Linked DNA regions of Homo sapiens: region 2 is linked to region 1. The links come from fine-mapping of genetic effects on gene expression. A gene starts in region 1. The other region holds a variant in brackets. All regions are shown on one strand. Distances are between the middles of the regions.

What was found. PIP is the estimated chance that this variant, and not a neighbour inherited with it, causes the effect. A credible set is the group of variants that fine-mapping cannot tell apart.
Region 2: its variant is the best candidate, but not a certain one, in a credible set for the expression of ANGEL2 in blood mononuclear cells (TOPMed, PIP 0.76).

What each region holds. Positions count from the first base shown.
Region 1 is chr1:213,013,444-213,017,714 of GRCh38, reverse strand. It overlaps ANGEL2 (angel homolog 2), which reads left to right and starts at 1,848. Exons shown (of 9, transcript NM_144567.5): 1 at 1,848-2,102. The coding sequence starts at 2,044. RefSeq lists enhancers at 1,813-2,122, 1,835-2,422, 2,423-3,011.
Region 2 is chr1:213,193,504-213,197,774 of GRCh38, reverse strand. The region is part of intron 8 of RPS6KC1 (ribosomal protein S6 kinase C1); the gene reads right to left. Among named protein-coding and RNA genes, the nearest start is that of RPS6KC1, 140 kb to the right of the region's middle. The variant T/C (reference allele first, on the strand shown) is at 2,515.

The sequences.
Region 1 (4,271 bases):
CACTATCTTGGTTCACTGCAGCCTCGCCCTCTCGGGCTAAAGTAATCCTTTCACCTCAAATTCTGGAGTAGCTGGGACTACAGACGAGAGCCACCATGCCCGGCTAATTTTTGTATTTTTTGTAGGGACGGGGTTTCGCCATGTTGTCCAGTGTGGTCTTGAACTCCCTGGCTGAAGCGATCCAGCCGCCTTGGCCTCCCATATTGCTGGGATTACAGGCGTGAGCCATCAGGACCAAGTGTCCTTTTCACATTCCATTTAGTGATATGTTTTTCACGTTTTTGTACTTTTTGTTGATGTTGCTGTTTAAAATGGTCCCCAAGCGTTGTGCTGTATAGTGCTCCTAAGCACAAGAAGGCTGTCATGAGCCTTGCAGAGAAAATAGCAGTGTTAGATAAGCTTTGTTGAGGTATGAATTATAGTGCTGTTGACTGAGTTCAATGTTAATGAATCAACAATATATATTAAATAAGATGTCTTTAAGCGGAAACACACATACAACAAAACTATGTATTGATTAAGTTGATGAAAATGCGACCAGAGGCTTACAGGATCCTAATCCTGTATTTCCCTTAGGAGTAATGATTCAGTATTTACTAATTCAGTGTTTCCAGCAACTTTACAGAACCTAACTACTGCAAATAACAAGAATCAATTACATACTGAGGGAAAGGTTTTTTTCAAATACACTTTACTTCCTTTTATGCACCAGGGATAAGAAAAGCCTTCCCAAGAAATTACCACTGTTTCAAAGAGCCTATAAAAGCAGTGCTCCTGCCTTCTAGTATCCTTTTCCCCTCTACTCTCCACACTTTATTCTTTCTCGGTTTCTCTCTTCCTGTTTCTTGCAGGGTCTCCACTTAAATAATGTCTTTCAACAATCTACAGTCCTATAATACATTTAATAAAGGTGGACACACAAGACATACAAGTACTTTTTTTTTTTTTTTTTTTTTTTTTGAGACGGAGTCTCGCTCTGTCGCCCAGGCTGGAGTGCAGTGGCTCGATCTCTGCTCACTGCAAGCTCTGCCTCCCAGGTTCACGCCATTCTCCTGCCTCAGGCTCCCGAGTAGCTGGGACCACAGGCGCCCGCCACCACGCCCGGCTAATTCTTTGTATGTTTAGTAGAGACGGGGTTTCACCGTGTTAGCCAGGATGGTCTCGATCTCCTGACCTCGTGATCCGCCCGCCTTGGCCTCCCAGAGTGCTGGGATTACAGGCGTGAGCCACCGCGCCCGGCCCATACACGTACATTTTAAAGTGAGAGCTATGGCTGTGCTTCCGCAACATTAATTGCAAAATTCTGTGGTACCTCAGTTCCATGGGCACCCAGAGGATGCGTTGTTCAGCCTCAGCTGGGAATCTGCACTTTGGGCAATTAAAAATTTTCACTGCTCTGTTTATTTCTGCCGGGCGCGGTAGCTCACTCCTGTAATCCCAGCACTTTGGGAGGCCGAGGCGGGCGAATCACTTGAGGTCAGGAGTTCGAAACCAGCCTGGCCAACATGGTGCAACCCTGTCTCTACTAAAAATTCAAAAATTAGCCGGGTGTGGTGGCTCATGCCTGTAATCCCAGCTACTTGGCAGGCTGAGGCAGGAGAATCGCTTGAACCCGGGAGGTGGAGGTTGCAGTGAGCCGAGATCGTGCCATTGCACTACAGCCTGGGCGACAAGAGCGAAACTCCATCTCAAAAAAAAAAAAAGAAAGAAAGAAAGAAAAAGAAAAAAAAGAAAGTTTATTTCTGTTTCTTTAAGACGAAGTTCGGGTGTTTTGCCCTCTTCAGAAATGGTTGCACGCGCGTCCCACGCTCTGCGCATGCTCCTTGAGCAGAATTCCGGGTTAAGGCATTCAGGGACTCTGACTGCGCAAGATGGAGTGTAGGCCGGCCGGCGAGACTGCACCTCCCAGCATGCCTTGCAGCCAGGACTGGAGTCGGTACTTAAGAGTGATGGGGTTCCCTAGATACTTTAGGCCGTCGCATCGATTATAGAGATTGAGGTGGAACCCGGGGCCTGGGAACTGGACGCACGCGGAGGGCGAAGATGGAAGCCTGGCGCTGTGTGAGGAAGGGCTACGGCCACTGTGTGGTGGGAAGAGGCCGGTCAGTAGGGCTGGGTACTCGGAGGGAGGAGAGAGGGGCGGGCGGCCTGAAAGAGCGGGCGGGCGTCCGGGACTAACCCGGGGCGGGGCGGGGCGGGCTAGGGGTGGAAGGAAGAGGAAGAGGGTCTGGGCGATGGTGCATCCGGGACGAGCCTCCAGAGACCAAGCGGGATAGGTAAACCCGCCGCGCAGCTGGCGGGACGCTGGGCCAACGAGGTCTGGGGTCTTGGCGCGGAGTTCATGGGCCGCCGGCCAGGCTTGTGCCAGTGGCTTTGGATCCCTGGCCTGCTTCCCCCAACCCAGCCTCCAGACCAGCGCTGGCCTGCTCCACACACTCCGCAGCACCGTCCCGGGAACCGAGCGTCGGCGGGGAGGCCGCCTCTCCGCAGTAGGTCTCGGCGGGCCTGATCCCTTGGAGGCGCGTGTGTGGCACACGCCCAGGAGGGGCTTGATTTTTGTTGATGTGTTAGTGTCTTTCAAACTTTAGTCACTTGTATGTCATCCCTTACTGTTATGGCCAAGTTCTTGTTTCACGTGTATTATTTACTGGATATTTTTCTTTAAATTGACTCAGTTTTTTTTAAAAAGCACTTCAGTAGGTGCTGCCCACATTAGCTTCACCCTAAGCAGTGTCTGCAGAGTCTTGGATTTGATGTGCGATTATGTTTTTTCCTAATAAACTAACATAAGTATTTAGAAATTACAATCAAGTAATTTAACTGTGTACTCTGTGAAACCGACTCGTGTACCACCCACCACGCTTGGGAAACACAGCATGTATTATTACATAAGCGATGGGGATTTGGTTGTAACTCCCATAGGCCTGGGACTTGATGGTAATTCAGTTCAACAATGTTTCCTGAGTACCAGCTGTTTGCCAGGCACTGTGCTAGGCACTTGTGAAGATAACGGAATTAAAATGAATAAGACGGTTCTGTTCTGGCCCTGAAGGAGCTTAACATCTTAAGAGAAAAAAAAGTCTGAATAAATAACTGCAAATATAGATAATAGCTTTTGTAGTACAAGTATTATATTTCAATACAGTGGCTTATTAGCATAGAAAATGCATGGACCAAGTGCCCAAATTCCTATGGCTTTCAGAGTTATCACAAAGCAGTGTAGAATGCCCATGTTATGCCTTTAAAGATTTACAATTAAGTAGATTTTAGAGAACAACTAGCGAATACTTAAACTGTAAAAATTATAATAAAAATTTAAATGCTGTTAAAACGAGAATAACAGCGTATAAAGTTAAATAACAGTAAACGCAACTTAAACAAAATTCCCTTAGGGATGGGAGCGCACATTATTGATGCTGTGGTAGAAATGTAGCTGTTAAGAATTTTGGAGGAAAGGATAAAAGTCCTTCTCTGAATCTTAACATTTTGCCAAAGTAGTATAGTGAGAGGAACATGGTGCTTTATTAAGCTGAAGTGTTTCTTGAGAGCCTGAGAGCAACATACCTATTAAAAATGTTAGCGCCACTTTGGAGATGTTTTGGATGATGGGTTAAATTGAAGCTGTTGGTTTGGAGTGTTGGTGCATTCGTAGTACGTCATCCCCATCCTCTTTCATTTCCCCCAACGAGAATCATGCTTAAAAAAGAATGGAGAAATAAATTATCCACCCGTTGATTAGTAAGAGAAGTAGTTTTGTGAATTTATGAAGTTGTGGATAGGCTTTTGTTTTCCTAACTATACAAGTGTTTGGAAAAATCTGCCCTTGGTATAAAAAACTGTTCAGAAACTTGTTATTACTCCAAGTTGGAGGAGAGGTTTACTTTAATTGTAGTGTGATATGAGTTCCTTATTCGATTTCAGTATAATACTTGTTGTGTATTTTATTTTCTCATTGAGTTTTGTAGGTGCTTGAAAGCTACTCTGAATATCATTTTGATAGTTGATTCATCTCTCAGTTGAACTATGTACATTTTCAGGGGTATGTGGTATTTTGGGAGCCTGGGAGGCATTCTGTGTTAAGTATTCAGAATACCATTCATGGTTTTTTAGGACGAGAGTATTGAGATATTGATGCCAATAGGTAAATCATGGGTGCTTTCCTCTTCATCCTTCACAGATTTAGCAGCCAGATTTTAAATATTAGACATTACCTTCCCTTGAGGAAACAGGCTTAGATTTTGTAAACTATAGCTGAACAAAAAGTGGTGCCT
Region 2 (4,271 bases), 180 kb before region 1:
AGGAGTAACTACTTATATAGCAGACAAAACAGACAGATCATATACCTAGAAAACCCTAAAGACTCATCCAAAAAGTTCTTAGATCTGATAAATGAATTCAATAAAGTTTCAGGATATAAAATCAATGTACACAAACCAGCAGCACTTATACACCAACAGTGACCAAGCTGAGAATCAAATCAAGAACACAACACCTTTTGCAACGACTACAAAAAATACATACATACATACATACATACATACATACATACTTAGGAATACACCTAACCAAGGAGGTGAAAGATCTCTACAAGGAAAACTACAAAACACTGCTGAAAGAAATCACAGATGACACGAAAAAATGGAAACACATCCTATCCTGATGGACGGGTAGAATGAATATTGTGAATATGACCATATTGCCAAAAGCAATCTATAAATTCAGTGCAATTCCCACCAAAATGCCATAATCATTCTTCACAGAACTAGAAAAAAAGAGTCCTAAAATTCATATGGAACCAAAAAAGAGCTCACATAGCCAAAACAAGACTAAGCAAAGAGAATAAATCTGGAGGCATCACATTACCCAACTTCAAACTGTACTACAAGGCTATAGTTACCAAAACAGGATAATACTGGTATAAAAACAGGCATGTAGAGGCCGGGCACGGTGGCTCATGCCTGTAATCCCAACACTTTGGGAGGCTGAGGCGGGTGGATCGCCTGAGGTCAAGAGTTCAAGACCAGCCTGACCAACATGGAGAAATCCTGTCTCTACTAAAAATACAAAAACCAGCCAGGCATGGTGGCACATGCCCGTAATCCCAGCTACTCAGGAGGCTGAGGCAGAAGAATTGCTTGAACCCAGGAGGCGGAGGTTGCAGTGAGCCGAGATCGCGCCATTGCACCCCAGCCCGGGCAACGAGAGCAAAATTCCATCTCAAAACAAACAAACAAAAAAAGGCATGTAGACCAATGGAACTTAGAAATAAAGCCAAATATTTACAGCCAACTGATCTTCAACAAAGCAAACAAAAACATGAAGTGGGTAAAGGACACCCTAGTCAACAAATGGTGCTGGGATAATTGACAAACCACATGTAGAAGAATGAAACCAGATCCTCATCTCTCGCCTTACACAAAAGTCAACTCAAGATGCATCAAAGACTTAAATCTAAGACCCGAAACCATAAAAATTCTAGAAGATAACATCAGAAAAACTCTTCTAGACATTAGCTTAGGCAAAGAGTTCATGACCAAGTACCCAAAAGCAAATGTAATAAAAACAAAGATAAATAGATGGGATGTAGTTAAACTAAAAATTTCTGCACAGCAAAAGAAATAATCAGGAGAGTAAACAGACAAGCCAGAGAGGGGGAAAACATATCTGCAAACTATGCAACCCACAAAGGACTAATACGGAGAATCTACAAGGAAGTCAAATAAATCAGCAAGAAAAAAACAAATAATCCCATCAAAAAGTGGGCTAAGGACATGAATAGACAATTCTCAAAAGAAGATATTCAAATAGCCAACAAACATATGAAAAAATGGTCAACATCACAAATTATCAGGGAAATGCAAATGAAAACCACAATGCAATACCACCTTACTCCTGAAAGAATAACCATAATTAAAAAATCAAAAAAAAATAATTTTTTGGTGTGGATGTGGTGAAAAGGGAACACTTCTACACTGCTAGTGGAAATGTAAACTAGTATAACCATTATCGAAAACAGCATGGAGATTCTTTAAAGAACTAACAGTAGAACTAACATTTGATCCAGCAACCTGAGTACTGGGTATCTACCCAGAGGAAAAGAAGTCATTATATGAAAACGACACTTGCACACACATTTATAACAGCACAATTTGCAATTGCAAAAATATGAAGCCAGCCTACGTGCCCATTACCAACAAGTAGATAAAGAAAATATGGTATATATATACACACACACACACACACACACACACCATGGAATACTACTCAGCCATAAAAATAATAAAATAATGGCATTCACAGCAACCTGGATGGAGTTGGAGACCATTATTCTAAGTGAAGTAACTCAGGAATAGAAAACCAAACATCATACGTTCTCACTTATAAGTAGGAGCTAAGTTATGAAGACGCAACAGTATAAGTATGATATAATGACCTCTGAGGACTCAGGAGAAAGGCTGGAAGGGCAGTGAGGGAGAAAAGACTATACAATGGGTACAGTATACAATGCTCAGGTGATAGATGCACCAAAATCTCAGAAATCACCACTAAAGAACTTATTCATGGAACCAAACACGACCTGTTCTCCAAAAACTATTGAAATAATTTTAAAAGACAGACCAATAAACACGTTACGAATTTTTAAAACTTTTTATTTCAGAAATAATTGTAGAGTCACTAGAAAGTTGCAAACATTGTACAGAAAATTCCCACGTACCTTCCATTAAGTTTTCTCTAAGGGCTACATTGTATGTATCTACAGTATACTATTATAGGCAGAAAATTGACACTGGTATTATGTGTGTACATATTAA[T/C]AGTTCTATGTCATCTTATCAATTGTATACATTCTCATAACCACAAGCACAATCAAGACCCAGAAGTGTTCCACCAGGATGCTCACTCTGTGATTCTCCTGTTAAATAAATGTGTTTGCCTTTTCTCCAAAAGGGACAAAAACAAAAAAACTAGAAAATTAAAAAACAAAAGTGTTGCATCACCACAAACCTCTCCCTGCTGCTATCCCTTGCAAATCACCCCCTAACACACACACACCCTTCTCTCCTCCACCATCTCTAATCTAAACACTGGCATCCATAGATCTGTTCTCCATTTCCATAATTTTGTCATTTTAAGAATGTTATATAAACCAGCAGTCACCAACCTTTTTGGCATCAGGGACCAGTTTCATGGAAGACAACTCTTCCACAGACTAGTGGGGGTAATGGTTTTGGGATGAAACTGTTCCACCTCAGACAATTTCTCTTGGGGACAGGGGGTACATGTAGGGCATGGTTTTGAGATGATACTGTTCTACCTCAGATTATCAGGCATTAAGAGTCTCATAAGCAGCACGCAACCTAGAACCCTCGCATTCACAGTTCACAATAGGGTTTGCGCTCCTATGAGAATCTAGTGTTACCACTAATCTGACAGCAGGCAGAGCTCAGGTGGTAAATGCTCACTTGCCTGCTGTTCACCTCCTACTGTGAGGCCCGGTTCCTAACAGGCGATAGAGTGACACCTGTCTGTGGCCCAGGGATGGGGGACCCCTGGGTTATAAGGCAGTACTTGCAAGCCTCCTGGTAACTTCAAATCAAAAAACTTACCATAGATACACAAAAAGTAAGAAGCAAGAAATTAAATCATACCATCAGAGAAAAATCACATTCACTAACAGGAATACAGGAAGGAAGGAAAAAAGGAAAGACCACAAAATCACCAGAAAACAAAATGGCAGAAGTACGTCCTAAACTATCAACAATAACATTGAACATAAACAGATTAAACTCTCCAATGAGAAGACACAGAGTGGCTGAATGGATTTTAAAAAACCCAATGCTGCTTTGCCTACAAGAAAACCACTTCACCTATAAAGACACACAGGCGGAAAATAAAGAGATGGAAAAAGATACTCCATGCCAATGGAAACCATGCAGAGCAGAAGTAGCTATATTTACATCAGACAAAATAGATTTCAAGACAAACTATAAGAAGACACAAAGGTAATTATATAATGATAAAGGGGTCAATCCAGCAAGAGGATGTAATAATTGTAAATATATATGCACCCAGCACTGGAGCACCCAGATATATAAAGCAAATATTATTAGAGCTGAAGAAATAGACCCCAAAACAATAATAACCGTAGGCTGGGCATGGTGGCTCACTCCTCCAATCCCAGCACATTTGGAGGCTGAGATGGGCAGATCGCTTGAATCCAGGAGTTTGAGACTAGCCTGGGCAACATGGCAAAACCCCATATCTACAAAAAATGCAAAGCTAGCTAGGCATGGTATTGCGCACCTATAGTCCCAGCTACTCAGGAGGCTGAGGTGGGAGGATCGTTTAAGCGTGGAGGTTGCAGTAAGCCGAGATCTTGCCGCCACACTCCAGCCTGGGTGACGTAGTGAGACTCCATCAGAAAAAATAAAAATAAAAACTAAAAAAAACTATAGACCTCAATACCCCACTTTCAGCATCAGACATATACTTCAGACAGAAAATCAACAAAGAGGCCAGGCATGGTGGCTCACGTCTGTAAGCCCAGCACTTTGGGTGGCCAAGGCGGGTG